4 linked regions of the Homo sapiens genome follow. The protein of the gene in region 1 interacts with the protein of each later gene in a pairwise test. Each region holds a gene or a part of one and is shown on either strand. Other genes may lie near its edges.

What was found.
Region 2: the proteins of TSGA10 (region 1) and CEP57 interact in binary tests that used the Homo sapiens proteins (3 or more experiments, as listed by UniProt).
Region 3: the proteins of TSGA10 (region 1) and ZNF410 interact in binary tests that used the Homo sapiens proteins (3 or more experiments, as listed by UniProt).
Region 4: the proteins of TSGA10 (region 1) and PLEKHA7 interact in binary tests that used the Homo sapiens proteins (3 or more experiments, as listed by UniProt).

The regions. Positions count from the first base shown.
Region 1 is NC_000002.12:99,102,926-99,109,953, reverse strand, and holds part of TSGA10 (testis-specific gene 10 protein), read left to right. Parts: intron 1-397; coding exon of another isoform or gene 398-514; coding exon 515-565; intron 566-962; coding exon 963-1,121; intron 1,122-4,256; coding exon 4,257-4,427; intron 4,428-4,517; coding exon 4,518-4,595; intron 4,596-5,835; coding exon 5,836-5,987; intron 5,988-6,870; exon of another isoform or gene 6,871-7,028. UniProt on the Homo sapiens protein: Plays a role in spermatogenesis. When overexpressed, prevents nuclear localization of HIF1A.
Region 2 is NC_000011.10:95,793,484-95,800,511, reverse strand, and holds part of CEP57 (centrosomal protein of 57 kDa), read right to left. Parts: intron 6,292-7,028; exon of another isoform or gene 5,979-6,291; intron 4,997-5,978; exon of another isoform or gene 4,971-4,996; coding exon of another isoform or gene 4,953-4,970; intron 1,281-4,952; coding exon 1,124-1,280; intron 1-1,123. UniProt on the Homo sapiens protein: Centrosomal protein which may be required for microtubule attachment to centrosomes. May act by forming ring-like structures around microtubules. Mediates nuclear translocation and mitogenic activity of the internalized growth factor FGF2, but that of FGF1.
Region 3 is NC_000014.9:73,924,850-73,931,877, reverse strand, and holds part of ZNF410 (zinc finger protein 410), read right to left. Parts: intron 4,772-7,028; coding exon of another isoform or gene 4,650-4,771; intron 376-4,649; coding exon 337-375; 3' UTR 1-336. UniProt on the Homo sapiens protein: Transcription factor that binds to the sequence motif 5'-CATCCCATAATA-3', and is specifically required to silence expression of fetal hemoglobin in adult erythroid cells.
Region 4 is NC_000011.10:17,011,400-17,018,237, forward strand, and holds the start of PLEKHA7 (pleckstrin homology domain-containing family A member 7), read right to left. Parts: upstream 3,016-6,838; 5' UTR 3,003-3,015; coding exon 2,917-3,002; intron 2,803-2,916; coding exon 2,726-2,802; intron 2,648-2,725; coding exon 2,590-2,647; intron 1-2,589. UniProt on the Homo sapiens protein: Required for zonula adherens biogenesis and maintenance. Acts via its interaction with CAMSAP3, which anchors microtubules at their minus-ends to zonula adherens, leading to the recruitment of KIFC3 kinesin to the junctional site.

The sequences.
Region 1 (7,028 bases):
TGACCTCATGATCTGCCCGCCTCGGCCTCCCAATGTGCTGGGATTACAGGCATGAGCCACCATGCCCAGCCTAGTAGCATATGTTTTTCTAAAGCAAATCCATGCCATTTCTAGGATGTGTGCTAGGTCTGTGGACATTTCTGGCCTCTCTAAAATTTCTTTACCATTTTTTCTCCAAAATTATCTTTCAGTTAAAATATAGCATACCCAGAAATCCTGGAAAAGAAAGATATCTAACTGCTTTTTAAAAATTACTGATATATAATTTTTTAAATGTTGTATTTAAAAAATACCAAATTAAATGTTTTTAAGGATCCTGTTTGTTTTCAATTTCACTTAGAAAATGATGCTATAGTTTAGCTTGAAATAATGGTCTAATTTTTTCCTCTTTGGCAAGATAATTTTAGATACTGAAAAAGCACAAAATAAATCTCCTTCTAGACTTGATTCCTTTGTCAAGACTTTGGAAGCAGACAAAGATCACTATAAGAGTGAAGCTCAACATTTGAGAAAGATGATGCGAAGTAGGTCTAAAAGTCCAAGACGCCCATCACCAACTGCCCGGGTAGGTTTTATAAACTTACAAATATTTTGGAGTTTGTTGCCCAGACACTGGCTTTTATTCTTTGTTTTACCTAATTTGAAAATAATTTGTTTTGATTTGCTGTGAATTGCTGTTTCAAAGGGGTTGAGAGACAGAGGTCTCTTTGATGGCACAGTAGACTACTGATATTGGTTCTTTATCCTCAGCATAATTAGCACTTGGGAGGTAATCAGGCAAATGTGGAATAATTTGGAATGAAGCTGTTTTAAAAAGATGTGGTTTTTAAACTTATTTTTTATAATTTCCTTTCATTATATAGTCTTATTTTCTTAAATAGAAATTGGGCACTACCATCAGTAGCACCTTTCTATCAGTACTATATATCAAAGAAGATTTCAAATTCCTTATATAATTATAGGGTGCAAACTGTGATGTAGAACTTTTGAAGACAACAACAAGAGATCGTGAAGAACTTAAATGCATGCTGGAAAAATATGAGCGCCATTTGGCAGAAATTCAGGGTAATGTCAAGGTTCTTAAATCTGAGAGAGACAAGATCTTCCTTCTTTATGAACAGGTAAACTTACAAAAAACAAATTATATAAGTAATAACATTGAGTTCTAGAGTTATGTAATTCTTCTTTGAGTTTTATGAGACTGCTTAAACCTGCAAATCAAGTTAATCTAACATTTGGGGATTACATATGTTTTTAAGATATTCTTAATGAAATGTAGTACATTTCCAATACAGTAGGTATGTGAGTACACACGTATGTTATCCCCATAGCCAAAAATCATACACATGTATAAAAATAGTCTTATTTTTGGAATAAGATATGAAGAAACCGTTAAATGATAAGTTGTTATGAGTTCAAGGTAAAAAGATCAAATCCTGACCTTTTTACCTTGAACTTGCCACACCTTATCACATCACTTTAGGAACTTTTATATAATTTGCTTAATTTTAGAGAATAAAAGAAGTATGTAGTTTATCTCTGCTTTCTAGCTTAGAATTGCATAGCTTTTATTAATCAAATACCTTCTTTAACCCAACAAGTATTAAATCCTATAAATCACCCATATAACTTCTTTTAAAAGTATCACAATTTTTTAACAAATTATAGCTACTATACACAGGGTTCTAGGCTCACTACTCTAAGGGATAGAAAAATGATAAGATGCTGACCATGTTTTCCTATAAATTTACAGTCTAGTTAGGGAGATAAAGTATATTGTATTTATTGATTTTTATTAAGTGGTCTAGAAGATATTATAAGAAACAAAAGAAGTGGGCATTTTTAGATATGGTGATCAAGGAAATCTTTATTAAAAGATACAAAGTGTGAGCCCTGAAAAATGAATGGAGTTTCTATTACCCTGAAAGGGGCTAGAAGGAACAATCCAAACTAAAGGAATGGTATGAGGCAAAGGATAAAGGTAGGAAAATCAGCAGATAAATAAATTGGTTTAAGACTAGAATAGAGGGTATGTGTCAGTGGAGAAGGGAGAGAGCTAAGACTTGAAAGGTAAGATTGCACTAGAGCAGGAATCAATATACTTTTTCTGTAAGGCCCAGACAAAAAATATCTTCTGCTTTGCAAGCCATGTGGTCTCTGTTGTAACTAATCAGCCCTATTGTTGTAGGGTGAAAGCAGCTTTGGACAATACATAAATGAATAACTTTGGCTGTATTACAGTAAAACTTTATGGATACTGAAATTTGAATTTCACATCATTTTTACTTGTTTTAAAATACTCTTTTGATATTTTCCCCAACCATTTAAAAATGCAAAAATATTTCTCCACTTACAGACCTACAGGAGGCAGGCTAGATGTGGCCTGTGAGTTATATATAGCTTGCTGACTTCTGGACTAAATGGTACAGGCTGTTCAATGGGCCTTATATGGGGTTTATATTTTGCTTCATAAGCAACAAACAATCTTTTTTTTTTAAAGGCAGGCAAAATATGAACAAAGTATCATTTTTACAATTTTACAATTTTAACCTTATGGCAAATTTTTATTTCTCACATAATCTTTCTATACTGTCTTCTTATTTAACAATTTCTCCTTTGAGAGAATTGATGGAGGGAGAGACCATGGACTCCTCTTTAGAAGGCTGTTACACTAGTGCACATATAAGGCATTAAGGGACTAAGCAAGGGTGTTTCAATGGAGATAAATATAGGGACAGATGCAAAAGACCCTGTGAAGGAAGATTTGACATGATTTGCTTTTAGGAAGAAGGAGGGTTGCATGACAGTGACTAAAATTCTGTCTTGAATGACTCAGCAATGTGGTAATAAAATAAAAAATAGGAGAGTCATTGGTGGTTTGAGGAAAAAGATGTGAGTTTGTTTTTAGACAGAGTAAGATAATGATAGCACACTCAGGTCGTAATTGCCATCAGACTGTAAGAAATGTGGGACTGGAGTAGAGAGAGGCAAGAGTTAAATAGTTAGCTTTGGAAGTCATCTGCTTAGAGGTGAGCTTCGAGCCTTCAGAGTGGATGAAGTCTCTGAATGAGAAAACTGTACATAGAGGAGCAGAAACGTTAAGTTATAATATTCAAGATGCAGAAGGGAACCTTTGAAAGAGACAAAGATGACAGACAGCTAGGGAGGAACAATGTTAAAAGGGAGGAAGGAATCTCAAGAAGAAGGATGTTGTGAGCAGCAACAGACCACTGAAATATCAAGGAGAACAGGAACTGAGAAAAGACCATTATATTTGGTTAGGTCTTTAGTTGAAATTCCACAGAAGGTGGGAGGGTGGGAGCCAGGTTGTTCTGGGGTGATAGAATGGATGGTAAGGAACCATTGGCAATAGTTATAGACCATGGGACTTTTTTTTTTTAATGTGTCGCAGGAAGAAGAGACATAGGATGGTAAATTGGTCAGCAGGATCAAGTGACAGGTTTTCAAGATAAGGGAGCACTGTACATGACTGAAGGCAGGGGAGAAAGTGCCAGTGGAGAGGGTACTATTCAAGATGAGAAGAAATAATTATAATTGAGTCAGGGAGATCTTAGAAGACACTTTAGGAGATGAGGTTTGGGGTTCTGGTGAAGGCTTAGCTGTGGAAATTGGGAAGTTATATATTTTCCTTTGGGGCTTGGAGACTATCTGAATAGACAGTGATCAAAATCAAGAGGAAAAGAGACCTGTGCAGCGAACTGTGATATTAAATAATCTGCAGGTTTGGAATAGATTTGGGACCCAAGGATGGTTGAACAGACGTGCAGAGACTCTGTTGGGTTATCAGTAAGGATTGGTGGGCCTTTCTGTCAGGGCAGAAGTAGCCAAGACATAGGAATGGCATATGCATTTATATTTAGGAAGACTGAAACACTATGATAATATTCATTAAACCGGTAGTCTGTCTAAATTGTGCTGAATTTAAATTTACACTACAAAATGAATAAATGGAGTATACCAAATATATTTCTTAGCAAAACATTCTCTGTTGCAATGACTTCCTCCAAATTAATTTTATTTTAGACTTTTGGCAAAGATGTTGTAACATGAACTTCTATTTAAATATATTCATTTTCATTTATTTGTATAAGCTTATTTTAAAATAAAAGCGATACCATTACCCTGCTGCATGCATGTTGATGTAGGTTTGCATTTTAACTGGCTAGATACATAAAATTTTTTATGTTTATGTGTTCTAAAGCTTGTTCAACCAAAGTCTATGATTTAAATAATAGGCACAGGAAGAAATTACCCGACTTCGACGAGAAATGATGAAAAGCTGTAAGAGTCCTAAATCAACAACGGCACATGCTATTCTCCGGCGAGTGGAGACTGAAAGAGATGTAGCCTTTACTGATTTACGAAGAATGACCACAGAACGAGATAGTCTAAGGGAGAGGCTAAAGGTTGGAAAGGATTTTATTTACGTGAATATATGTGAAACACAAATTCAGGGATATTGAAATCACTTTATTTTGTTTTTGCTTTTTAATCAGATTGCTCAAGAGACAGCATTTAATGAGAAGGCTCACCTGGAACAAAGGATAGAGGAGCTGGAGTGTACAGTTCATAATGTAAAAAAAAAAAAAAAGAAAAGTCTCTTTTGGCTATAAACACTCAATGGCTTTCCCCTTTCTCCTTTTTCTGTATTCAGAGAAGTTATTTTATTTTTCTAAGATAGTGTTTATAGTCCTAAAATACTTAAGGTATTTTATAGTGTAAATTGTCACTTTTTCATTTGTTTATTTCCTTCTAAAAATGTGAGTAAATGTTTTTTGGTGTTAGGTTGCAAAGTATGTACTTTAAAAAAATCATTAGGCATTCATTTTCAGGGATCTTATCTACTTTCTCATCTCCATATTTTGTTAAAGATAATATTGCCAGATGTAAAGAAAATGGTTTATTCTACCTAAAGAGTGGATAAGGAGAGAAAATTATGATGAAATAAAAATTATAAGCAAAGTTTATTTAAACTAAATTTAAATGTGAAACATCACCTTTTTCCTAATCAGATTTGATATTGCTACGAATATATATTGATGATATTGTCACTATATAAACATAAGAGAATTTAACTTTCTATTACCAAATATAATTGAATATATTTATAAGTTCATCTGTACTGTTTTATTGTAATGAGTTAAAAATATGAGATAGGGGCTGGGCACGGTGGCTCATGCCTGTAATCCCAGCACTTTGGGAGGCCAAGGCGGGTGGATCACCTAAGGTCAGGAGTTTGAGACCAGCCTGACCAATATGGTGAAACCCTGTCTCTACTAAAAATATGAAAATTTGCCAGGTGTGGTGGCATGCGCCTGTAGTCCCAGCTACTTGGGAGGCTGAGACAGGAGAATTGCTTGCACCCGGGAGGTGGAGATTGCAGTGAGCCGAGATCGCGCCACTGCACTTCAACCTGGGCGATGGAGCGATACTCTGTCTCAAAAAAAAAAAAAATTACTAGACAGGAGAAAATAATTTTTGTTTTCATAATTCTACATTATATGTGTAATTTATTAATGTTGGGCAACAAATAAATTCTTTTGCAAACAGCATATTTATACTATAGTCAAATTGAACCAGATTGAAAAATATAGACTGATATACTGTGATAAGCTTTACTTTGCAGTGGCTTTTCCTTGGTCCTACTTCACAACACCTTATCTGTAAAACCTTCTACAGCAGTCAGGTCTAACCTGATAATCTCATCCTGTCAGTCTTGCCATAAACCAGTTTGTACAGAGGGAGTATGCCCTTCAGGAAGATTACTAAGGTGTTTTTAGTGATGGCAGTAACCTTGTCATTCTACTTGTATAGCTTGATGATGAACGTATGGAGCAAATGTCAAATATGACTTTGATGAAGGAAACCATAAGCACTGTGGAAAAAGAAATGAAATCACTAGCAAGAAAGGCAATGGATACCGAAAGTGAACTTGGCAGACAAAAAGCAGAGAATAATTCTTTGAGGTAAACTAAATCACCTTTAAACAACCAACAGTTTACTATAACTATAGCTCTGCTTTTTATAGTGTATTTTATAATGAAAATTATTTGTTGAGTTCAGTTTCTGAGAGGATTATTGAAAAGCAGTTGTAGGAACCCTTGGCACACAGTGAACAATTTTCCTGAGCTCAATCACAGGCTGGTAATGCCACACTTAACTAGGAATCACACTTCTAGTAATCTTACTTTACATTTGTAAAAAACTTCAACTTTTAACTGAAATAGCTTTTACAAAGCTCTTCTGGGTACAGAATATATTTGACTTTGATTGTTTACCTTTATAACTTTAAATTCTGTTTGGGGATATGAACAGTATAAGAAAACACAAAGCACAGGTTTGGCAGTTGCTTAGAAAAAGGGTGATTTAGAATATAATGAAAAGCCGTAACAGAGAAATAGGAGCACGTGATGGAGCATCTATTAATTGAATGCAAGTACTATACTTAGCCTTTCCTGTGTACTGGCATGGTTGCCGAAGATGTATCAATTGAAGCAGCCTACAGCAATAAGCTTGGGAGAATGAGTTTTTGAAGACCTCTACATGAGTGGTTTTACTTTTAGTATCTGTTGCTGTGAGAAACAGAGGTTCTACAGATTCAGTAAGGTTGAATTTCATTGCATCTATGAACATTGAAAAATAGTAATAGCTTAATATCTAGGTGACGGGTTGATCTGTGCGGCAAACCACCGTGGCACATGTTTACCTGTGTAACACACCTGCATGTTCTGCACATGTACCCCGGAACTTAAGAAAGAAAAATAGTAGTTCACACTCCTATTAATGCTGAGATTACAGGCATGAGCCACCGGGCCTGGTCTTTCTTAACAATTTTTTTTTTTTTTTTTTTTAGTCATAAAACCAATTATTTAATTGAAGCTATAAAAAAGGCAGTATAAGCGATAAAATAATTAGGAAAGAATATTTAGCATGTTTCAAAACATTTAAAATAGGAGCAGAACATTTTACAAAAAGTTGTACAGGAAATTAAATTCTAAAACTGTAAG
Region 2 (7,028 bases), on another chromosome or scaffold:
GAGAATAGCAATAGCTTGAATCCAGGAGGCGGAGGTTGCAGTGAGCCGGGATCCCGCCACTGCACTCCAGCCTGGTGACAGAGTGAGACTCTGTCTCCAAAAAAACAATAAAAAATAAAAAAAAAAAAGAAACATGAGAGACTACCTACTGTTACCGTAGGAGACAATAAGGGAAACATGAAGGAAGGAGGACAGTTTCTAGGAGCAAAGACTGTCCTCAAGTAAAAGTCTGCAAAGCAACAGAATCTCAGTACTGCAATGACAAGGAACTGAATTTGGCTAAGAATCTTAATGAGCTTGGAAGCAGATCTTCCCCAGAGCCTCTAGTAAAGAACAGAGCCCCAAGCAAAGCCTTGATTTCAGCCTTGTAAGGCTCTAAACAGAGGACCCAGATAAGCCTACACAGATTTCCGACCTACAGAAAACTGAGATAACAAATATTTAAAGCTAAGTTCATGGCAATTTGTTAAGGCGACAAGAAAACTAATACAGATGGCAGGTTCCAGGAATAAATGTATTTCAAAGTAGCCAGAGCAAAGGATGGGAAAGGAAAAAACAGAAGACAAGTTAGGGATGAAGCTGGTGAGGCATATAGGGTCTAGGTTATGAAAAATTAAGAATTTATTATGTAAGCTATGAAGAGATGCTAAAGCTTTAATTTTGTGGGAGAGATGATGGATAATGACAAATGACAGAAATGTTGTTAACTGGGGATGAGGAGGAGAAAACAGGCAGGGAGATTAATGAGGAATGTACTATGAACATCTGGGCTACAGATGATGAAAGCCTGAACCAAAGCAATGAGAACACAAAAAGGCAGAAAAAACAGTATGCTTTTGGTATATTTCAGAAGCAAAAAAAGGTCTTCATTCCGGACTAATAGTGGGGATTACAGAGCAGTCACTGATGACTCAAAGTGTTTTAGCATCAGTAATTTGGTGGATGATGATGTTCAACAATCAATATAAGGAATACAAGAAAAGCATAATATTTTCTGGGGGCTGAAACTGGAAGCAAAGGGGAAATATATTTTCCTCTAATGGCAAAATAATGGAGGACAAAGTTAAGAATTTTAAAGCAGCAAGAAAACACAAATAACATTTATTTCGTTAGGCTCGATTACCTCTGCTGTTGCTTTCTGGATAGGCAAGTGTAGGCTTACTTGGGGAGCGTCGTAGATCACTATTAAGGAAAGGCTTATCCGAAGGATATACTACATATGGAGATGAAGAATGCCGAACCATGCTTCCATTAGACCTTGATGGCTCAGCAAAGCTGTTCTAAAAAATAAAGACACAAATTACCTTTCAAAAGTGTGAACCACAAATAGCAGATTTAAATCACAAATATTTATGACTGAGATTGACTGTCCATACAGACAACAGAAAAAATCCACTGACTAGAAACAATACAATTCAATCATTAAAGAAATACAACTTTTAAAGTGTTTCATATTAGTCTGAATATAGCCATATGCCAGACACAAGAAGAAAATAATGTTCATACAACTTGAATACAAATGCTGTGCAGAAATACTTAAATGATACAATGAATGTAAATACCGCAGTTAAAAATATATACTGTGAAATATACGTTCAGAAAAATAAAAACATTATTTTTACAGGACCAGAAACTGCTACAAATGACTGAATTACTCTATTCCCCATCCACAAACTACTACTTGAATATTTATAGTATTCAAAACTCCAGAAAGAAAATAAGGCACTGTCCTTGCCTCAAATACTTTACATTTAATTAACAAAAAAGAAAATAATTAGAAAACATTAAGGCCCATCAAACACTCAAACATAAAACTTTATTTCCACAGTACACCATTCTGTCATGAATGAGATTCTGTTAAATTTAGGATTCCACATAATAATTTCAACCCAGGAGATGCTAACTGTGGAGTTTTATTTGTTGTAGGCGACTTCCTACTGACAGATGGTCCTAGACTGGGGGAAGTAACTAAGAAGCTGAGGGCTAAGGTGGAAGATATGACTACCAGCTATTCAAAATGTTCATCCACTTTCCTTCCTCAAACGGCCACAGCAAACTATGTTTTTCAATTCTTACCTTTGAAGATTTACATTTACCAGAATAATCCGTGTTCATAAAAGTACAAGAGCACAATGAATATTTAAAACAGTAAACAATCTCCTGAAACAAAGGCTATCGAAATACCTGCACTGTATTTAAATCTTATTTAAAATTAAAGATTTTACTTCCATGTTAAAAATCATGCAAATTTCCAGGTGATTTAAGAAAGCAAATATAAAACATTTTCTATTTATATAAATATAAAACACACTATGGCTATGACAATCAAAAGTGGGGACAAAGAGCTTAGGAGGGTAGGGCCAAGTCTTAAAAGTGGTACTCAAATAAATAAGTGCTAAGTCTACTATAGTATGTTCATATATAACAAAGACTAGTATTTGTCATTTTCCAAACTTAATGGCAAATTGGCATCTGGTTTTACAGGTAACTGGAAAATAGGATGAGTTTTCAATTCTTTATAATATTGTCAAAGGTCTTGCAAAGCATCCTCAATTACTGCATAGCTTAATTTTAAATGTCACAGAGAACCTCAAGTTTTCATTGGTTATTTACAACCCACCAGAATCCTATCATTTAATATTCAAAAATATTAAGTGACTTGCCGACCACCCTCTGCCCAGTCAGGGGAATCCCATTAACTATGTGATTAACTAACAAACTAGTTCCCCAAATGGAACTACCTCTGTTCTACATTTTGTATGTTAGTGGGCTTGCCCTTTACTATTTTATATCACTCCTCATGACATATACATTTTTATTATCTGTATGCCCTGTGGTATAATAAAAAATATATTTAGTCTTTTGTCCTTGGTTTCAGATACAGATTCAAAAACTCCTAGAATTTCTTAAGTGATAGGGTATCCTTGTTAGGCTGATGAAGGGACTCAAGGTAGGGCACCTAGGTAGCTTCAGGTTTGAAGGCATCTTCTGGAAGCTGGTTGCCAGAAAAACCAACCACTAGATTATAAAGAGCTACAGATTTCAGCCAGGCATGGTGGCTCATGCCTGTAATCCCAGCACTTTGGGAGGCCGAGCTGGGCGGATCACTTGAGGTCAGGAGTTCGAGACCAGCCTGGCCAACATGGTGAAACTCTGTCTCTAACTAAAATACAAAGAAATTAGTCAAGTGTGGGGGTGTGCCCTGTAATCCCAACTACTCAGGAAGCCAAGGCAGGAGAATCACTTGAACCCAGGAGGTGGAGGTTGTGGTGAGCCAAGATTGGGCCACTGCACTACAGCCTAGGCAAGAGAGTGAGACTCCGTCTGTGTGTGTGTGTGTTGGGAGGGGGGTGGGGTGGGGGGGAAGAGTCACAAATTTCAGCCCTAGGCCCTGACCTTAGGGGAGGTAAGGGACAGATTGAGCCCAGTGACCAGCGGACAATAATTTACTCAATTATGTATTTATGTAATGAAAGCTCAATGAAAACTCTTGAATAATGAGGTTTGGGGAGCTTCTAGATTGTTGAACATACTGATATGCTGGGAAGGTGCTGCACCAGAGGATACAGAAGCCCTTTCACACCTTGCCCTATGTCTCCTCCATTTGGCTGTTTCTGAGTTGTGTCCTTTATAAAACTGAAATTGCTTAAGAACAGTCTTTCCTGAGTACTGTGAGCCGTTCTTGGAAAGCTGCAGGAATCCCATAATTTGTAGTCAGCTGAGCAGAAATGCAGATGCTCTGCGAACTCTGACTGACTTGGGGGCAGGCAGTCTTGTGAAACGGAGCCCCTTAATGTATGGGGGTCTGAGCAACATCTGGGCAGTGTCAGAATTAAAATAATTGTAGTACACCCAGTTGGTGTAGAATTTTTGCTGGAGAAATTAAGTTCTAATAAAGGAGTTTTATTATGTTCAATAAATCTGTTGAATATTAACTATACATTTCCTCCGCAAAACAGGAAACTGCACATTACTTATAAAAGATTATCCTTTTCAACAAAATCACTACAACCCTTTAAGAGATCACCAAAAGCTTTTGGGCTTCTTTATATTTAACAAATAGCACAAATATCATAGGAAGGCTGCGTAGAAAGGAGCCCAATTCTAACTCCCAATCCACTAATCTCTCCATGACCCTAAGCATTCAGTAAAAATTATTCCAACCAAAATATGATTGTAGGAGAAACTTTCAGGATTAAAGGCAAAATGTTTAACCTGATCACTAGCTTTTCCTGCAGCCTTTAGTTCTTAGGGCAAATATCTCATTTAGGAACACATAATTCAAATATTTATTGAACATCTTTTTATGACACTGTGTGAAGTATGAAGCATAATTTAAAAATGCATATTACTTGCTTTCTTTATAAGTGGCACATGCAACACAGCTGCAAGATATTACCTAGATAAAACTCAAATACAAAACAGTAGGTGGGAACTGGTAAATTGGATGTAATAGAGACTAAGTGCAAATTAAATTCAGATGCATTCAACAGAACACTGCTTCAAAACAGTATGGTAAAGGAAGGTCTTTATTAGTGCTGAAATCGATACTGGGTCTTGTAGATTGACATGTATTCTGATAGGCAAGCTAGAAATGGATATAAAAGGCAATTATTTCCAGGTTAATGAATACATCAGTTTAGCTGAAAAAAAGAGTTTGTGTACACATGTTGAGGAAATAAAATTGGAGAAGTCAAGGTCCAATGGTGGAGGAACATGATGTACAGCTCTGAGCAGTGCAATCAATGCAACAGTTCCAAACTAAATATCAATACGATCGTCAACAAATGTAGAAAAGCATTCAATAAAATTCAACATCCAGCCATTATTTTTTAAAAAACTTACTTCCTTATGATAATATGAAGTTTTACAAGAAAAGATGGCAAACATACTTAATGGTGGAAAACTTGAAATATTCCTTTTAAAATCAGGAGTAAGACAAAGATACCTACATCAATTCTGGTCAACATTGTACTTCATTTCCCTAGTCTGCACACTAAGAAAAAAAAAAAGAATAACAGCTATTAAGATTGAAAAGGAAGAATCCCAATTTCGTATCATGACTAAATAGAACAAAACAAAAAATCCTCAATTATGAGAATTAAGTCTGGAAGATTGCTGAGTAAAATAGATATGTAAGAGTCAGTAATTTTATATATTAGAAAATGCAACTTATGAAAATATATATCACACAATTAAAAACTAGAAATAAACTGAACAATATACAAGACATGAAATTATACAAGTACTGAAAAATGTTAAAGTTCTAAATAAATGGAGTAACATAACATTCAGACAGAAGGGTCAATATCCTAAACGTATCAGTTACACCCAAATTAAGCTAGAAATTCAATAAAATCTAAACCAAAATTCCAACAGCAGGTTCCAGAATTTCTACTGAAGAAAAGCAAAGGACCAACAATAGCTAATATTTCTCTTGAGTAACAAGGAGGTAAATGACCCCCCCACCTCCAAGTGGGTATCTAAGTAGGAGAGACAAATACAACAAAGGGACAAAGAGCCAGGTAACACACCCATACACATATGGAAATGAACATATTGCAAACCATTGGGGATAGGATGAATTTTCAACAAGTAGTGTGGGGACAATTGTGTATTTTAAGTAAAACCGTTACACTGGATCCCTATCTCACAGCATACAAATTAATTTCAAGTAAATTAAGGACATAAAAGGCTTCAACTTTAAAATAAGTAGGAAAAAAATATAGAAGAATACAACCAAGGCCTTGGAGAAAGGAAGAATTTCTTAAACAGAAATCACTAATTATAAAAAGACTAACAAATTTTACATTAAAAGTAACAACAACTATTAATCGAAAGATATCAAAGACCAGCCAAGATGTCTCTGGAACAGTCTTAACAGACAAAAACAGGCAAAGGACATGAACAGGTATTTCACAGAAGAACACACACACACACACTAGTAAAGGTTTGAAAAAAACAGGGTGCATACTCACCAATGATAAGAGGTGCACAAATCAGAAAATAGGATACCATTTCACACACACAGCAAAAATTTACAAGTGGGACGATACCATCCATTTAAGAGGACATAAAATAAAGAGGGTTGTTGGTATAATCACTTGGTAAAACAATTTAGTATGACCGAGTAAAGCTGAAGACGCACATACTCTGTGAACCAGATAATTCATTCAGTTATATTTGCTGAACGATTTTCTCTCTCTTCTTTCTTGAAAATGATACGGGTTGAGTCACAGTACATATTCCATGACCCACTACTGAGCTGTAATCCAGAGCCCAGCCTCTGGTCTGGAAAAAAAAAAGAAAAATCACTGCCCTAGAGTTGCCCCTTGCAAACTTTTTCTCTCAGGACCCCTTTACACTCTAAAAGATCTAGTGAAAAGAATGGCACTATTTTACATTTCTGCAGATCTCTTTAATGTTTGCTTTAAAAAAAGAATGCTGGATTCTCTTATCTAGTTCTGCATTCGCTCTGTTGGATATGTTATTTTGTTTGACTTATTAAAGATCTAGTCTACCACAAACGTGGTCATTACAGAAGGATCTTGTAGACTCTGAGAGGGTCTTGGAGATCTCCAAGGGTTGTGAGACCATACTTCGAGAACTGCACTCTAGAGAAACATTTGCCATGTACAGCATATAACAATGAATACAAGATTGTTTCTAATATCTGGCAAACAAATGAACAGCAAAACCCATTAAATCCAAAGCCCATTAAGATACTGTCATTTACTAGCTAGAGAACTTTGACTCAACCTCTCTGTGCCTCATTTTGCTCATTTGAAAAAGGAAATATTAATGCCAATCTCAGAAGGTTATTGTGAGGATTAAATGAGTTAATGCATGAAAAGGGTCTTTAAGGATTATGCCTTGCCAGGTAGTCCTATATAAATACCATACATTATAATCTTAAAATACGTGGTAGTGGGTGGGTGTGGGAAGGAGAAAGAAGACACAGAGGAACATGAAGGTATTCATTTTATTATTCTCAAAAAGTAAATCTTATATTTAATATTATAAAATGT
Region 3 (7,028 bases), on another chromosome or scaffold:
AGGAAAACCTCCCCTCAACAGTCAGAATGAAGAACTTCAGCCAACACATAATCAAATTCACTTTTGGTCTATCCCAGAAATTTGCAGTGGGAAGAGAGGTAGGTACAGTTTCCCAGCCCACAGTCATTGCTTCATTCCTTGTCTGATCAGATGGTAGTTAGAAAAGAAGCTCTCCTACATCCATCTTCTATACCAGGAAAGAGGAAGAGTGGCAAAAGCAGAGTCTTGTGCCTTCAAAGATTCATTCTGGTTCTGTTGTGGGCTAAGGCATCCTGTTCCCAGTATACGCATTTTGAGATCAGATAGAGTTGCTCTTCCAGGAGTCAGCACCCACGCTCATGTCCGTCTTTCAGTTAAATCTCCTTGGTTTAGTAACTGTAAAAGATTGAAAGCAAATCTAGAATAGGTTACAGTTGAATTATAGAAAAAATAATTCATAGTAAAAAGTATTAAGAGTGGAGGATGGAGAATGCACTACAGGGGTGAATGAAGGCTATCTACTTCCAAAGCAAACACATGCACGGACTGATAGATGTCACTGTGGCCTTGGGACAGCACTTTAGCCATGTCATAAGGCTGGCATTTTAACTCTGGCAATCAAATATTCTGAGTCTATAAGCCAAACTATTGTTTGTGTAGTTACCTACTCATCAGTCAGTGACAGAGGAATCTCTAACTTACAGGGAAAACAGAAATGGTGGAACCAAAATCTTATACGTGTCAGCCAAAGGATAGGCTGAAGGCTCAAGTAGGAGAAGGAAATAGGAAGAGGAGCTGTTCCTTTATAAGTACTATATGAGAGCTGAAACCCACTCATAAAAGATCTAGGGGTTCCTTGGGCTTAAAAGAATGATAAGCCTAAGGGACTCCTGCATAATGGCAACTACCACTAACATTCTACTCTATACACAAGGCTCTATTCAAAGGAGTTTTGAAATAATGAAATTGGCTTCCATTTTAATATAAAAACAAAATGAGGCTGGGTGCAGTGGCTCACATCTGTAATCCCAGCACTTTGGGAGGCTGAGGCAGGAGAACTGCTTGAGACCAGAAATTTGAGACCCACTTGGGCAACACAGTGAGGCCCTGTCTCTACAAGAAAATTTTAAAAATTAAGCATGGTGGTACATGCTTGCAGTCCTAGCTACTTGGGAGGCTGAGGGAGGAGGATCACTTGAGCCCAGGAGTTCAAGGGTGCAGTGAGCTATGATCATGCCACTGCACTGCACTCCAGCCTGAGTGACAGACTGAGACTGTTTTCAGACACACAAAAATGAGATGGGAACAATTCAGTAAAATTCAGAACAAAAACAACTTATTAAAATCTAATCAAATAAATTCTTCAGCTTGAGATGTATTTACTTGGTGATCCTAATTTGGATGAAGGTAATTTATACAGTAGAATTTAATGATTGGGCTGGGCACCATGGCTCATGCCTATAACCCCACCACTTTGGGAGGCTGAGGGAGGAGGATTGCTTGAGGCCAGAAATTTGAGATCAGCCTGGGCAACATGGTAAGACACTGTATCCACCAAAAAAACTTTTTTTTAAGAGTTTAATTATATGGAATTTAAAGACTTTTAAACAAAATCTAAAGAAAAAATTAAACCTTAAAGAAACCACATATTCCATTTGATGCTGTGTGGCAGGAAAGTTAAGAATAGTGTGTTTTTAATGGAGGCCAAGATCCAGATCTTTGCAGTCAAACTTAGCAAAGGTACTTTATGAGAAATATTATAGAATTTGTAATTTCTATTTGTGCCTTGATTTGGAAAGCATTCTAAGAGGTAGTCAAAACTAGCTGGGAATCTCTTATACTGGTTCTTGAGTTCAAGAATGTGAACTCAATGTAAATATGGAGCCCCATTTAGAATGACCTTTAGTAAGTATGACAGCCCAAAAGCCCTGGGGTTCCCAGTTGGGCCTGTGCAATGAGTCCTCCATCTAATTCTCAGATGTGGCACAATAATGAGGGAAAATAGAGATTGTCCACCTGAACCAGAGAGGTGACTTGTAGTTTCTGATATTTTTCCCATGGTAATTTTTCTTCTTTTTTTTTTTTAAAGAGTTTGGCTCTGTCACCCAGACTGCAGTGTAGTGGCAAGATCATGGCTCACTACAGCCTCAACTTCCTGGGCCCAAGTGATCCTCTCACCTCAGCCTCCCAAGTAGCTAGGACCAGCTAATTTTATTTTATTTTTTGTAGACATGGGGTTTTCCTGTGTTGCCCAGGCTGGTCTCAAACTCCTAAGCTCAATTGATCCTCCCACCCCAGCCTCCCAAAGTGCTAGCCACCGCACCCAGCCTCTCATGAAAATTTCTGATAACAGATTTGGTTGTTCTCTGATATTCTTGATAAGCTATTTTTATTTTTAGAGCATATTTACAGGAAGTACAAGTTCATCAGTAGACTTTGATCCATACTGCTTGGTGATCTCCAAAAAAGGTGAAACGGACATGTGTTGCAAATAGCCTTCACCTTCTCTGGCACCTGAAAGTTCTTAAGGAATCAACATTCCTCACTCACTGGAGAAATAGCAAGTTATTACCTAGACCTTGGATGAGGAAGAGGCCTAAGCCTGGAACCCTGAGGGCCTCACAGCTTGAAAAAAAACTGAAGGTATTGGAGGACCCAAACTAGTGAAGAAAGAAAAGGAGGGGATAAGCAGTGGAAATGCCTGTGATACGAGGAGGAGAATAATGCTAAAAGTGAAGAAAACACAAAAGAAGTGAGGCTCAGACAGAGGGTATGTTTGTAAATATACAAAAACCCATGAGGAAAAAGTGACAGTGCAGGATTTTGAGCTACATCCAGGACAGCACTTTCCCTTTTGTGTTGTTAATATTTTTCTAAGTGTTTTGGGCTTCCATTATGAAACTGGGTTTTGTGCCTTCCTGGAGTGAAGACCATACTTCCTTTTTTTGTTTGATTTTTGGGATAGGATCTCTCCCAGGCTGGAGTGCAGTGGGACAATCATAGTTCACTGCAGCCTCGAACTCCTGGGCTCAAGTTGATCCTCCTGCCTCAGCCTCTGGAGTAGCTGGGACTACAGGTATGCACCACTATGCCTGGATAATTTTTTAAAAAACTTTTTGTAGAGACAGGATCTTGCTCTGTTGTCCAGGCTTGTCTCGAACTTCTGGCCTCAAGTGATCCTCCCACCTTAGCTTCCAAAAGTGCTGGGATTATAGACATGATCCACCACACCCAGGTCTTTCGTTTTTTAGGCAGCCTGTGTTATGCTGTCTCCCTGAGGCTGTAAGTGGGCAGCACCTATTATACATGGATGCTCTGAGGCCAATTCCAAGACTTGTGCCTAGGTTCTAGGGAACAAATGTACTATTACTGGATATTCTGAATACACAAATCTGATCACGTCATACCCTACTTCAAACCATGCAGTGGTTCTTCAGTGCCCCCAGGATAAAATCATGCCTTGTAAGACCTTTCAAGAGACTAGCTTATCTTTCCAGCTCTCAATTTTCCTCTCCAGCCCATCTCTTCATCCCATGTCCCATCACACTCAACCCTATTTACAGTTCCACAGAGGCCCTCTACTCCCTTACCTTCTACCTTTGTACACACTGCTGTCCTTCTGCCTGTTATATTCTTCCAACTCCTACTTCTCCATCAAGATGATGTCTATTCATCCCTCCCATCTCAACTTAAACTCTAAAACATATTCTCTGACTTCTCCCAAGACTGGAACGTACTACACTTAAAAACTGCCAGTTTAGGCTGGGCGCAGTGGCTCATGCCTGTAATCCCAGCACTTTGGGAGGCCGAGGCGGGTGGATCACCTAAGGTCAGGAGTTTGAGACCAGCCTGGCCAACATGATGAAACCCCGTCTCTATCAAAAATACAAAAAATTAGCTGGGTGTGGTGGTGGCCGCCTGTAATCCCAGCTACTCAGGAGTCTGAGACATGAGAATTGCTTGAACCCAGGAGGTAGAGGTTGCAGTGGGCCGAGATTGTGCCACTGCACTCCAGCCTGGGCAACAGAGTGAGACTCCGTCTAAAAAATTAAAAAAAAAAAAAAAATTGCCGGTTGATTAATTGGTCACTTCTCCCATCCTAACCTCACTGTACAGTGCAACTCCAGCACCATATATATAGTTATGAAGGTCCTAATTCTGCCTATAAGCTATTTGAGGCAGAGACTATATTTTGTTTACTATTGTATAACTAGTACCCTGCAGAATGCCCCACACATACTAGGTATGTGGTAACTAGCCGCTGAATGAATTAAATTTTCATACATCTGGCATTTATTTGGGTAACGTGGAGAATTTTAAAGATATTTACCAATACAGGAGAGAAAAGCTCTGAGGTTTCAAATATAAAAAAGAAAAGGCTAGGTGCTGTGGGTTGGCTTGCTCGAATAATAATGTGTACTAGGTAAAAGAAAAACGAGATGGTTTTCCTGAAATGACGATTTCAGGGCAACCCTATGGTTGATGAGAGAAGTATTTCTTGTATAAAAGAATCACAATTAGGCCGGGCGCAGTGGCTCATGCCTGTAATCCCAGCAGTTTGGGAGGCTGAGGCGGGTGGATCACCTGAGGTCAGGAGTTCAAGACCAGCCTAGCCAACATGGTGAAACCCCGTCTCTACTAAAAATACAGCCGGGCGTGGTGGCACCTGCCTGTGGTCCCAGCTACTCAGGAGGCTGAGGCAGAAGAACCGCTTGAATTCGGGAGGTAGAGGTTGCAGTGAGCCGAGATGGTGCCACTGCACTCCAGCCTGGGCAACATAGCAAGACTCCACCTCAAAAAAAAAAAAAATCATAATAAACACAGAGGGAACAAGAGAATTAGGATATCACCATTTTGCAGGCCTTAATGAAAAATAGATCTAGGCTATGATCAGTAATGGTTGCCAAAACCTTTACATAACCTACCAGTCAATCTTAAGATCAACTGATTGTCATGTGCCTCCTGATGAGATGTAATAGGAAGCAAGAGCACCATTTATGAAATATTCTTGCCAAGGGGGAAAAATTGAATCTAATCAAACCTCTAAATGTAACTACCAGTTTTTAGGAAATACAGTGGATAGAGAAATTAATATTAACAAAAGGAGTCAATCAGCCAAAACCAGAATGTGGGAAAATCTTTAGGACAAAAACTCCCAATTCCTGGCCGGGCGCAGTGGCTCACGCCTGTAATCCCAGCACTTTGGGAGGCCGAGGTGGGTGGATCACTTGAGGTCAGGAGTTTGGGACCAGCCTGGCCAACATGGTAAAAGCCCGTCTCTACTAAAAATACAAAAATTAGTGGGGCTTGGTGGCAGGTGCCTGTAATCCCAGCTAATTGGGAGACTTGAGGCAGGAGAATTGCTTGAACCTGGGAGGCAGAGGTTGCAGTGAGCCGAGATCACGCCACTGCACTCTTGACCTGGGCCACAGAGTGAGACTCAGTCTCAAAACAAAAACAAAAACAAAACAAAACAAAAAACCCAGTTCCTTAAATAGATAACCATACTGAAAAAAAAGGACTATTATAAAGAGAATTAAGAGAAGTATTAAACAAATGCAATATACAGACATTGTTTGAATCCTGACTCTAGCAAACCAACCATAAGATATTTTTGAGGGGGAGGAAAAAAAGAACATAGACTATTAGAGAATACAATAAATTATTGTTATCTTTGTTTGAAGTGGTAAAGATATTATAGTTTTTAATATTGTATCTTGTTAGAGGCATATACTGAAATATATACAGAAGAAATGACATGCCTACAATTTGCTTTGAAATACTCCATCATAAACAGCAACAACAACAAAAGGAGGAAAGAGATAAAACAAGAACAGTATAAAGTTAATTGTGTTTTTGTCTTTTGAGACAGGGTCTCACTCTGTCACCCAGGCTGGAGTACAGTGGCACAGTCACTGCTCACTGTAGCCTCAACCTCCCAGGCTTAGGTGATCCTCCTACTTCAGCCTCCCGAGTAGTTGGGACCACAGGCACATGCCACCACGTCCCGCTAATTTTTTTTTGTATTTTTTGTAGAGATAGGGGTCTTATGTTGCCCAGGCTGGTCTTGAACTCCTGGATTCAAGCAATCCACTTGCCTCCACCTCCGAAAGTGCTGGGATTATAGGCATGGGCCACTGAGCATGGCATAAAGTTAACTGTCAAAGTTAGGGCCAAGTGCGGCAGCTCACACCTGTAATCCCAGCACTTTGGGAGGCTGAGGCGGGTGGATCACTTGAGGTCAGGAGTTCCAGACTAGCCTGGCCAACAGGGTAAAACCCTATCTCTAATAAAAATACAAAAATTAGCCGGGTTTGGTAGTGGGTGCCTGCAATCCCAGCTATTCAGGAGACTGAGGCAGGAAAATTGCTTGAACCTGAGAGGCGGAGGTTGCAGTGAGCTGAGATCGCACCACTGCACTCCAGCCTGGGCGACAGTGGGACTCCATCTCAAAAAAAAAAAAAAGTCAAAGTTAGGAGACAGGTGTGAGCTGCCGCTCTCAGCCGTAACTTCGACTTCGACGTGGGTTTATCATACTAGTCTCTCTCTCACTGTACTCTGAAAATTTCCATAATAAAAGCTTTAAAATAGAAAAATGAAGACAAGAAAAATGGAGGAGAAAGAGGAAGGCTCCGTAAGTGAGATATGTATGATTCATTCCAAAGCAGTTACCAGAAAAAGTGACTTAGGAAAGAACCAATGATATCAAGATCAAAAACTTTAAATATAAGCAAAGACAATGGGTCACAACAATAAAAAGAAAAGTCCTGGCAAAAGCATTAACATGTATGCCCAGAACCCTGTAATCCTGGGTACCCCCAAAGATATTAGAGAATAATGGAGAATATTCAATATAGGATGCAGAGTCATTTGAATGATGCAACAGCTTACTGTGGTATAAAGGTTATAATGAAAAGAAGAAGGCTGGGTGCAGTGGCTCACGCCTGTAATTCCAGCACTTTGGGAGGCTGAGGTGGGCAGATCACGAGGTCAAGAGATCGAGACCATCCTGGCCAACATGGTGAAACCCTGTCTCTACTAAAAATACA
Region 4 (6,838 bases), on another chromosome or scaffold:
AAAAAAAGAACCCTCCCTCAAACCCACATCCTCTCCAATTACCGGCTAATGTCTCAACTCCACTTTGCAACAAAACTACCTGGAAGATTTGCCTAACTGACTCCCTGTCTTCACCCCGTGTTTTATCTTCCACCTACTCCAGTCAGATTTTGTCCTTTAAGGCTTCTGTGACCATGCATTCTCCTGGGGTTTCTCCTACCTTCTCAGTCCTTCTCAGTCTCCTTGCTGGCTTCACCTCTCACCCCTCTAAACACTGCTTTGACCATCCAAAGCCTCAGAACATCTCTCTTCTGTCTGTACTCTCTTCCTAGGGGATTTCATCTAATCCCATGGCCTTGAATAACATCTATTATACCCAATGGGTCTCTTCTGTCCTCTCTCCCCACCAAGCTTCAGATCACACTATCTGACATACTCATATCTCAAATGTAAGATGGCAAAACAAGATCTCATGATTCTCCTCCACCCCAAACCGGCTCTTCCCATCTCAACGATATGAATGCTATCCACTCAGGTGCCCAAGCCCTGAGGAGTCATCTTTGCCTCTTCTCTTTCTCCCACAGACTATTCAGTCCATCATGAAGGTGTGAAGAGCCTATTTCCTAAACACAGCCTGAATGTGACCACTACTCCCTGTCTACTGTGCTACCACCCTCAGGCAAGCCACTTCTAACTCCTGCCTGGAAGAGGGCAACAGCCTCAGCTGCTCTCCTGCCTCCCCCTGCAGTGGCCACCTACAATCCAATCTCCTCACAGTGATCGTTCTAAAAACACACACCAAATCATGCCATTTCCCTGCTTAAAACCCTCCAATGACGTTTCACTGGGCTTAGAATAAAGTATGAAAATTCCTCACCCCGGCTCACAAAGCTTTGCGGCATTTACCTTTCTCCTACCTGTGACCTCTCCTCATGCCACTTTCTCCCTTGTGCACCACATTCCAGCCTTCCTGCTCCTTAAACTCCAAGCTCTTTTCTGCCTTAAGCCCTTGCCCTGGCTGTTCGCTCTTCCCGAAATGCTTTGCCAACTCATCATCACATGATGTCTCCTTCTTGTCATTCAAATTTTACTTTAAATGTTGCCTATTCAGAAACACCATCCCGATCTCCCAGTACAACCAAGCCACCCAGTCACTCCATGTCACATCACCTTATTTTAACTTTCTGCACAGTAGTAACCACGATCTGATATTATTATTTGTGTTTTTTACTTATTTTCTACTCCCTTCCCTCTCCTATTAGATTGCAAGCTCCATGAGCACCTAGAACTTTTCTGTTTTTTGTTCCCAATGCCTAGAACAACGTGTGAACGTGTGGCACACAGGAAAATTGTAATAACATCAACTGATGCAGTTATGAGCCAGAGAGGCCCACTGACAGCAAGACTCTGATGGCCCCAGCCAACTCCCCAACTTCACATACACACATATGAGGCAGGGCAATAGAACCGCAGCAAGGCCCTAGTCCTTAGGTCTGTAAATCTCACCCATCAGTATTTTCAACTATTATGCAAGAACCCAAACCAGAAAAGGAGGTTCCGGGGTTTTCTTGAAATAGGCTGCTTTATTCCTAACAGTAGTAGTTCTGACTCACAGTCGCCGAGGTACACCCAGTCAGTACTAGTCAGACCACCGTCCAGACCTTTGGCGAGCTGATTCATTCAGTGAACAAACATTTACCGAGTGCCTACTTGCTGTCCGGCACTGGGGCAAGGGGTCAAAGGCAGTGTCTGGCCTCCCGGAGCTCAGCAGGCAGAGGGAAACACGCTGCAACACAGACTCCCGCCGGAGTGGGAAAGCAAAGCCTGTACTGGCATAGGAGCCTGACCCGCGCCTTCACTTACTGCGCCCCAATCTGACATGGACTGATCCTACAGACCCAGGGTAACCTGGCTGGTGCGCCAACACTCCGGGGCTTTTGCGGAAAAGTCGCCCGTGGACTAACGGAAGCACCAGCAATCCCCCGGTTCAGCTCCGGCCGAAGAGACGCGGAGCGCTCGAGGAAAGTCATTGGTTGACCAGTTCCCTTCCCCACCCCCTCCCTCCCCGCAGGCCCGCGCAGTGGATGGAGGCCGGGGGCGAGGTTCCGACTCTCCAAGACCATCCCAGAGCCTGCGGCGGGAGAGGGGGCGTCCTCCTAAGCGAGATTCCCCTAGTCTCTCCCTCTCCCCACTCCAACCCCGCAGGCCCACACCAGGACAGAACTTCTCGTTCTACTCCTCCCACCCGAGCCCATCCAGGTCCCGGCACTCGCCTCTCCCGGCGGGGCGCAGCCCCAGACCCTAGAGGGGAGGCGTGCCCAGCCCGCACACCAGCACCCGAATCCAGCCGGATTGCAAGGTCCAGGGCGCAGAGTCTGCGGCCTCTTCCCCCCCGGCCCAGGTCCCCAGCGTAGGTGCGGCCCCCACCGCCTTCCTCTCGGAGGCCGCCAAACAACTTGGGCACACAAAACGTTGAGTGTGGCCGCGGCGCAGCGCGCGCCAACGAGCCCGGGCCGGCGGGAGCAGAGGAAGGGCGGGGCGCCCGGCGGGAACGGGGAGGGACCCCCCCCCCGCGGCACAGGTGCGAGCGCGGCGGCCCCACTCACTCACTCGATGAAGTAGCTGGCGCCCTCCTCCGTGAAGCCCTCCTCCCAGCCGCGGGGCAGGTCTGCGGAAACGCCAGAAAAGTCGGGTCAAACTTGGGCCGCCGCTGCGCGCGCCCCCCACCCGCCGGCCCGGCGCCCACCTGAGCGGATCATGTGGCCCGAGTTGACGGGCTCCCCGGTGCGCGGATGCAGCCAGGTCGTGCAGCGGAGCTGGTCACTGCGGGCAGAGAGGTGCACCTGTTAGCGCCGCCACAGCCCGCCGGGTGCCCGCCCGGCCCCCGCCCCCGCGCCCCCACCCGCGTCCCCGCGTCCCCGGGTCCTCGCGCCGCACTTGATGAAGAAGACGCGGCCATCCCGGCACACCCCGTAGGACCAATGCTCAGGTAAAGTGTCCCGCCCGACCGTCGCCGCCGCCATGTTCGCCGAGCGCGGAGCCGCCGCGGGGTGGGGGGGAGGGGGCGGGGGCGCGGGCAGGGGCGGAGGCGGGGGCGGTGGCGGGGGCTCGGCCTGCGCGTGGCCCGGCGGCGCCGCGAGGCGCTCCATCCAGGCGCGGGCTCCTGAGGGAGCGACCGCCCGGCCGGGTCCTGGCGCCCGGAGTTCGCAGCCGCTCCGGCCAACCCAGCGCAGTGCCCGCGGCCTTTGTCCCCGAGCCTTCCCCGCCCCCAGCCTGCTGGCACCGGCGCTCCCCTTTGCCCCCGAGGCCGGGAGACCCGGGCGGCGCGGGGGGCCGCTGGCGGGGGCCGCTGGCGGGCGCGCCTGGGCAGCTTCGGGGCGCGCGGTTGGACCCGACCAACTCCGAAAACGGCGAGCGCCCGAACGCTCAGTAAACCCCAGCCGACCCGCACCACAGAACTTCCCGACCCGGGAACTCCGCTTGTGTGTGAACCAAGTTAACACTCAGGTTCCTGCCATATTCCCAGCCTCCTTCTCTTCCCCTGTAAGGTTAATCGAGTCCACACGGGATTGTTGTGTAGATTAAATGAAGTAACAATCGCATAAAGTGCTTAACCGGACCATGGCATGTAGTAGGTGCTCTATCAACGGCAGGCCGAGCGCGATTTCATTTTCCCAAGTTTTCAGCTGGGATGTGAAACAGGAGGGAGCAGGGTTACCGCCACACACCACTGAGGTTGCAGGGATCGCAAGCTCTTGCCTTCAGTTTCTGTCAAGTAACAGAAAAAAGGGGTTTTGAGGGCTCGGCAGCACGTCCATCTCTGGAAGAGCGGTGGCCAGGCGGGGCCTCTAGGGGGCCCTGCAAAGCTCTTTGCAGTGGCGGCACCCTCTCATATTCGGGTCTTTACTCCTATCTTATCTCCTCGGGGAGCCCTCCCTGAGCCCTCTGCAAAGAAAATCCTTCCCCTCCTTCCCTCGCTATTTCATTACTTGTTTACATTTAATTGATATTTGTGTTTGTCTTGTTTGTTGTATATTAGTTCCAACATGTCAGCTGGATGAGAGAAGGGGCTTTGATCTACCTCATACACTGCCTGGTCTCCAATGCCTGGAACAGCACCTGACTCATGTATGCATTACGCATTCAATAACTGTAGGATGGGGTGGGGCACGGTGGCTCAGGCCTGTAATCCCAGCACTCTTGGAGGCCGAGGCGGGTGAATCACTTGAGGTCAGGAGTTCTATTCCAGCCTGGCCAACATGGTGAAACCCCGTCTCTACCAAAAAAATACAAAAGCTAGCCGGGCGTGGTGGCGGGCGCCTGTAATCCCAGCTACTCAGGAGGCTGAGGCGGGAAAATCGCTTGAACCAGGGAGGCAGAGGTTGCAGTGAGCCGAGATCGCGCCGCTGCCCTGCAACCTGTGCAACAGCGAGACTCAGTCTAAAAAAAAAAACTGCAGGATGAGTGAATGAAACATACTCCACACTCAGACTCCCGGCCACACACACACACACACACACACACACACACTGAGCAAAGACAGAGCAGCAGCTGGGCTCCAGCTGTTGTCAGGCCCAGCCTTCTCGGGACATAGGCTCTGATTGATGGGAGGAGGCGCGCCTGAAAGTGAGACTGTATGCAATGTGAGCACTAGTTATTCAGAAAGGTGCCCAAACAGGTGGAATTAGGCTGGACCCTGAAGGACTGGTTAGGTTTGACTGGGAAAAGAGCACTCCAGAGGGGAGGGATGGGAGAGCATGCACATAATTTTGGGAGGGCTGTGAGATGTTGATGAGACCATAAAGGGGCCCTTCCTTGGGAACAGACAGTGGTGTTGGGGAAGGAGGCATTTATGAGTTAGAAGAGGTAACTGGTTGCAGAGGACGGGGGACACCTGTCTGAAGGAACCTCCTGCCTCTGAGGAGGTTGTTGAGCAAATGAAAATAGGAAAGCGGTGTTTTGCTAGCTAAACATTGATTTTAAATAATACATTAAATGGGCAAAGGGTATGAACCCACAGTTAATAGAAAAGTAATACAGATAACTTTTAAGCAAATGAAAAGATACTGAGCCACTTCATAATAGAAGAACTGCAACTTACGGTGAAATACTATTTTTTTAGATGTCAGATTGGAAAAGATAAATTAGAAAAGATATTGGCCAGGCGTGGTGGCTCACGCCTGTAATCCCAGCACTTTGGGAGGCTGAGGCGGGTGGATCGCTTGAGATCAGCAATTCGAGACCAGCCTGGCCAACATGGTGAAACCTTGTCTCTACTAAAAACACAAAAATTAACTGGGCATGGTGGTGCATGCCTGTAATCCCAGCTACTTGGGAGGCTGAGGCAGGAGAATCACTTGAACCCTAGAGGTGGAGGTTTCAGTGAGCAGAGATCACGCCACTGCACTCCAGCCTGGGTGACAGAGTGAAACTCTGTCTCATAAAAGAAAGAAAGAAAAGATATTGTAGAGAAAGACATTCTTGTTCATTGTTGATGGGACTTTAAAATGTTTGAGCCTCTTCGAAGGCAATTTGGCACAGCTATTCCAACCTCAATGTCTTGACCTAGCAATTTCATGTCAGGAATTTATCCTACATTAGTGCTTACATGGGGCACAAATTCCAGTGTACTAGAGTATTCACTGCAGCATTGTCAGTAATTACAAAGAACTGGAAATAACCTTAATGTCTATCAAAAAAGACCTGGTTGATTAAACTGGCACATTCCTCAACAACAACAACAACAAAAACAGAATGCTATGCAAGCTGTAAAAAAGAATGAGAATAGATCCCTACGTACTGATATAGAATGGTCTGTAAGATATTAAATGGGCCAGATGCAGTGGCTTGTACCTATAATCCCAGTACTTTGGGAGGCTGAAACATGAGGATGGCTTGAGTCCAGGAATTCAAGACCAGCCTGGGCAACATGGCAAAACTCCATCTCTACAAAAGATACATTAGCCAGGCATGGGGCGCATACCTATAGTTACAGCTACTTGGGAGGCTGAGGTGGGAGGATCACTTGAGCCCTGGAAGTTGAGGCTTCAATGAGCTATGATTGGGCCACTACACTCTATTCTGGGTGACAGAGCAAGACATCATCTCTAAATAAATAAATAAATAAAGTGAAAAGGCAGGCTACAGTACTGTGCATGTGATATGCTACTGTTAACATACAGATATAGTCCCTACACTGTCAAGAATCAGGTAAAGTGATTGCCTCTGAGGAGGGAAACTCTAATAGGAATGGTACGAGATTTACTTTACCTTGTTTCCCCTTTCATACTGTTTGATCTTTTTATCATTTAAAACATATACATATAGATACATAGAATAATACAATTCATTAATAGGTCCAATAAGAGACACACTGAAATTATCTCAATAAATGCCAAAATATGTAATCAATAAAACTCAATGCCTATCACTGATTTTCAAAATTATATGTTAGAAACTAAAATAAAAAATAGTGACAAAAGAGTATGCAGAGAAACTTTATGTCTCATACATTGCTAGTGGGATGTAAAATGGTACAGCCACTCTGAAGAATAGTTTGGCAGTTTCTTTAAAAAGGAAACTTTTTTTTTTTTGAGCCAGAGTCTCACTCTGTCACCCAGGCTGGAGTGCAGCAGCACAATCTCAGCTCACTGCAACCTCTGTCTCCTGGGTTCAAGCAATTCTCCTGCCTCAGCCTCCCGAGTAGCTGGAATCACAGGCATATGCCACCAAGCCCAGCTAATTTTTGTGTTTTTAGCAGAGTCAGGGTTTCACCATGTTGGCCAGGCTGGTCTTGAATTCCTGACCTCAAATGATTCACCCACCTCAGCCTCCCAAAGTGCTGGGATTACAGGTGCAA